Linked DNA regions of Homo sapiens: region 2 is linked to region 1. Evidence: fine-mapped expression QTL. Tissue or cell type: cerebellum. Region 1 holds a variant in brackets; the other region holds the start of a gene. All regions are shown on one strand. Distances are from middle to middle.

Region 1 (2,682 bases):
GCTGAAAAGCATGCAACTTCCAGCTTATTAAAAATATTAATATTTTGAAAATAAAACATGTGACTCTTGGCTGTGTGTTCAGTGATATGCAGGCATCGTATCACTCTGGCACCCACCATTTAAACATACGTAAATGAGTTCTTTAACCATTCTTTCCATCCACCTCCCTCATAAACTTTTATCCTAATATATGTTATGTGTGAAAGTCATATGGCTTATACCTCTCATACTTCTCAGCAATGAAAATATGTTTATACATTGAAATTGAAGGAAGCGGTACCTTTGTGATCAGGTCTGTAATTATGGAAACGTTACCTTCTGCTTACAGTTATCATCACCATTATGGATATTTGATTAAAACAGAATAAATATGTGACAAACTAATTAACAATTGTTAAACATAAAAAGTACGTTTTTATTGGAAATGCATCTCTCAATGAGGTGAATGAAGTTGTTTTTATTTCCTAGCTTACGTATCTCTGTGCTAGAGTAAGACGCATTATAAACATCGATTCTAGTTCTTCGTTTTCTTTATTATTATAGATGTTGATGGTGAGACTTTTTTTTTCTGAGACAGAGTCTCAAAGAAAAAAAAATCAATGCTTCCTGCACTTTTGCTAATTTCACTCCAGTTTGTCGTCCAGGCTGGAGTGCAGTGGTGCAATCTCAACTCATTGCAGCCTCTTCCTCCTGGGTTCAAGTGATTCTGTGCCTCGGCTTCCCAAGTAGCTGGGATTACAGGTAAGTCTGTCTTCTAGCTAATACAAACTTAAATGACCAGTAATAGGGTACGATTGACTAATCTATGGTTATGTCCACGTGGGGAGATATGAAGTAGCTACTGAAGTTATATTAATGAAGGTATGAAATAACATAAAAGATGCTTAAGGCCGGACACAGTGGCTCATGCCTTGTAATTCCAGCACTTTGGGAGACCAAAGTGGGCGGATCACTTGAGGTCAGGAGTTTGAGACCAGCCTGGCCAACATGGTGAAACCCCGTCTCTACTAAAAATACAAAAAATTAGCTGGGTGTGGTGGCGGG[C/T]GCCTGTAATCCCAGCTACTCGGAGGCTGAGTCAGGAGAATAGCTTGAACCCGGGAGGCGGAGCATGCAGTGAGCCGAGATTTGCCACCGCACTCCAGCCTGGGCAACAGAGTGAGACTCCGTCTCAAAATAAAATAAAATAAAATAAAATAAAATAAAATAAAATAAAATAAAATAAAATAAAATAAAATAAAATAAAATAAAATAAAATAAAATAAAATAAAATAAAATAAAATAAAATAAAATAAAATAAAATAAAATAAAATAAAATAAAATAAAATATGCTTAGGATACATTAATTAAAAAAATAGGTTAAAAATTTGCACACCTGGGATGATGACTGTAAGAAAAGCTCTTATTAGAGAGAAAACTCTGGAAAACTTTAACATGTTATAATGGTTCTATTTTAGGTAAGGAAAATTACTTAAAATATAATTTTCTCATTTTCTTCTCTCATTTTATTTTATTATTTGAAAACAATTTTAATAATGAAAAAGTAAGAAAAATGTATCAAATAGCATTCTCAAGATATTCAGCAAATCTTCTCTTGGGCCAGCCTTGCATCCAGGTGGTATAGGGATCTGCTGGTAATCCAGGCATCGGCCAGTGGAGTGGGGAAGGAAGGAAAGACGCCCCTCTTTCCCAGCTCCCACCAAAGCTCCCTTACAAGCCGTCCTGATGACAGCAATTCTGTCCCTAACACGGACTCCTCTGTACTACTCCTTTGGGGGTACCCCACTAAAAATCGGCTACATGAGGATAAATCACTTAGACGCTGCAGCAGCGTGGTCATTAGTGGCTTCAAGATGAGCGCACGGGTGGGGGTAAGGAGGTCGGATGGGAGGATGGGGGAATGTGCACACAAGAGCGAGGTCATCTGAAGCTCTGTCTAAAGCTTTGTCTGGAGTGGGTCCTTGTTGATGCAGCCTGGTTGCCTACTGAGCGCCCATTCTCTTCTTCCTTGCTCACAGATTACCTTTTTCTTTTTTTTCCTGTAGTGGGTAGGCAATGATTTCCCAAGATCCCTTGCAATTAGGAGTGTCTATGTGGCATTTTTCTAGGCAGTCAGGTGTGAGGGAGTCTAAGGGATGGGGATTCTGGACGAGCTACTACTATTTGCCTGACAAAAATGGGCAGACTTGGTGGGCAAGTGGTTTCCATTCTTTGCCCTCCCCGCTTCCTCTGGTCTGAACCACAAGCACGATGCCTGGATGCGCAGTTGCTATCTGTTGTCCATGGCACAGAAGCATTGAAAGACAAATTTCAGGGAAAAAAGTAAAACCATGACTCTTCTTCAGGTTAAAAATGAACACTGTTAAAGGTTTTATTTAATTCATGTGGAAACTAGGCAGATGATATAACCATTTCAAAAGAGGAGTCAAGGCTGGGCATAGTGGCTCACACCTATAATCCTAGCCCTTTGGGAAGCTGAGATGGGTGGATTGCTTGAGCTCCGGAGTTCAAGACCAGCCTGGGAAATTTGGCGAAACCCTGTCTTGACCAAAAAATACAAAAAAAAAAAAAAAAAAAAAAAAGCCAGGCATGGTGGCCTGCACCTGTGGTCTCAGCTACTCAGAGGCTAAGGCATGAGAATCACCTGAGCCCAGGAGATGGCGGTTGCAGTGAGCAAGATCACAC
Region 2 (2,682 bases), 110 kb before region 1:
AACCCATATCAGTGCTGGACCCACCCACCCCCAACCCCACAAGAGCATTCCCAGGCACCCAGGTTGTCAATTCACTAAACCGCTAATGGGATTTGGACTGGAGACAGGCATTACCTCTGGGGCCTGCTCTAACAGAGGGGTAAGAGTTTCAAGCAGGTTGGAGACCCAGGGCGGGCAACACATGGCTACCCCCGCCTCCTCCTGGCCTTGGCCCTGCTGAGCAGCAGCTTTGGATCCTCCAGACAAATTGATTGTCAGTGTTCCAAGTCCTGGGAGTAGCTGCTTTTCGTGCATGAATATAGGGCACCTGCAGCCCCAGTGTGTTGGGGAGACGGACACACAGGAAGGATGCTAGGGGCTTGCCCAGAGCCAGGGGAACTGGGACACTGCCACTGTCAGGCCATGTGATGCAGGAACCCCATGGAGCCTTTAGGGGCCTCAAGCTGTTTGTCTATAAGGTGGACAAACCCTAAGCCCCTCAAAGAACTGAGTGCCACTTGTCCAGAAGACCTTCCCCAAGACTCCAGTTCACCCTGATCACTCCTCTTCTCGGTCACCAACACACTTTGTATCATAATGTGTTTGGCACCTGATCACCTTCAGCCTGGCATAGAAAGTGTGGTCCTCTTGTCCTTTAATTATGTCCCACCTAATCACGTTATCTCATCATCGTTCCCGTAAACTTCTGGAGGGTGGCAGGGAGCACGCTTTGTCTCCTATCACCGGTGCCCAAGATCCTGAGAGAGGTGGAGACCTCAAAAACCAGGTCCCGCCACCTCAAGAGGGGCCAGGCCTGCCTGAGCCACTTGCCCCAGTGCCAACACTAACCTCAAGGTCCCCACTTCCAGCCAGTGCCCTTTCAAGGCGCTTTGTGAGGGCATCCCTCACACACATCCTTGCTATGCACTCACCTGCTTCAGCACCTTGTAGATATACATGGAGTAGGACTCCTTGCGCCGACAGCGCTTTTTGGACTTTTTGTTCCCAGAACTGCGACCCCCACGGCCCCCGGGCTGCTGCCGCTGTCCATACTCAGCGCTCATCCTCCTGCTTCTCGAATAGCCCTCACCCACCCCCTTGGAGCTACTTTTTATCAAGTCAGCTGCCCCACCAGGTGTGGCTGGGGACATGCACCTGGGAGGGGGGGGGGGGGCAGGTGGGAGGTAAGGGGCGTGACTCAATCCCAATCCTGAACATGCTCTGGGCTAACCTTGAAAAGAGACTAATTGTTCCTTCCTCTCCCACAAGTAATCCCTCTGAATTAAGAAACCCTTCACCGGGTCCCCTCCCCCACCCAACCATCTCCCAGTGTATTTACGCACTTCTTAAAAGTTCAGGCAACTCCAGCCCACCAGCCTGTAATCACGGAGCACACAGGTGCCAGCACAGCTCAGAGTGCTGCAGACTCCAGAAGGAATGCAAGCTCCCTCCCCCACTGCGCCCCAGTGGAGGTGAAGAGACAAGACTGGTTCACATCAAACCACCAGAGAAGGGTGAAGGGGCTAAAAGTGGTGGTACCCATGGTGAGGAGGGCTCGAGTAGCTAGAGGCCGCTTCTTGGTACAAATGGGTATATGAAGGGTATCCTTCATATACCCATTGTAGGATGTATCCTTGTAGGATGTATCCTTTAATTGGGAAGAATGAGAGAAAGAAACGGTGTGAAAGGTAGAGTGGAATCAGTGTGAGCGGAGTATAATGAGGCTTGGACTGAAGGCAGATGAGCAAAACGCCTGAGCCTGGACTAGATGCAGATAGCAGAAGCTCCCCAGGTGGTGAAGAGGCTGACAGGGAGGAAGACCACTGGAGGAGGTGAGAAGCAGAAAAGCAATAGGTGCTCACCAGAAAAGCAGACGTGGCGGTCTTGGGAGTTAGCAGTAAAGGGAAGAAAAGCCCATTGCAAAATGGAGAAAGTCAATTGTCTCACTTAGCACCTATGGGGGAACAAATACTTCAGGCCCTTGAATGCTGTGATTAAAGAAACCTGGAGCAATATGAAAGGTATAGGGGCTTGGGGGAAAAGAGGATGTTACAAATTGAGAGGTGGGAGAAGGGTTCCAAAGACCAGCATCACCTGCTGGCTGTGTTAAAGCTAGCAACCCCTCAATCAACTTACCTCTCCACCCAGCTCTGAACGGCTGGCCACATCCTACGGGCTAAGGTTTAAGAGAATTAACAGGCCACTTCTCAATCCAAAACAAGGCACTGCTAATTTTAGAAATATGTATTTTGTGGACTTTTAAAGCATTATTTAAATTACCAAGGTTGACATTTTTCTTGACAAATAAGCTGACTAGACTATTTCCATTCCTCCAGGTTCTGAAGATCTCCTGTCCTAGTATGGAGACTCTGGAGATCCCGAGACTACCTGAATTCTTAGCAATATCCAGCACTTCCTTAAGTATCAAGGGCTCTGTCCCTCACTGTCCCCATTATCCCAGCAGCCCACTCTCCAGATGCCATTCTCCCCTGAACCAAGGCTCTGGACTCTCAGGACAGACTAACCTGGGCCATTTTGCTCCAGGCCCCACTTAAGGCATAAAGCAGTCAAGCCAGTACCCTCTGGGGTCAGAGGACTCCCATCTGTCTCAGCTGCAGTGTCTCACGGGAGGCTCCTGTCCCTGTTGCCCAGGGCAGCTCCTGGACTTTGTGGCCATCTGAGAAGATCCTACTCATTTTTCAA

Alleles and levels. Alleles are on the strand shown, and positions count from the first base shown. SD is a standard deviation of normalised expression in the study named.
In carriers of allele C in region 1, the expression in cerebellum of the gene that starts at base 1,213 in region 2 tends to be lower than with T alone (large effect, 1.1 SD a copy in GTEx).

What was found. PIP is the estimated chance that this variant, and not a neighbour inherited with it, causes the effect.
Region 2: it holds the start of H2BK1, and the variant in region 1 is fine-mapped to the expression of H2BK1 in cerebellum (GTEx, PIP 0.96).

What each region holds. Positions count from the first base shown.
Region 1 is chr7:151,315,358-151,318,039 of GRCh38, forward strand. No RefSeq gene overlaps it. Among named protein-coding and RNA genes, the nearest start is that of NUB1, 25 kb to the right of the region's middle. The variant C/T (reference allele first, on the strand shown) is at 1,045.
Region 2 is chr7:151,209,276-151,211,957 of GRCh38, forward strand. H2BK1 (H2B.K variant histone 1) reads right to left here and starts at 1,213. Exons shown (of 2, transcript NM_001369125.3): 1 at 912-1,213. The coding sequence starts at 1,043. ABCF2-H2BK1 (ABCF2-H2BK1 readthrough) reads right to left here. Exons shown (of 17, transcript NR_160983.1): 16 at 1,842-1,933. ABCF2 (ATP binding cassette subfamily F member 2) reads right to left here. Exons shown (of 15, transcript NM_007189.3): 15 at 2,209-2,682.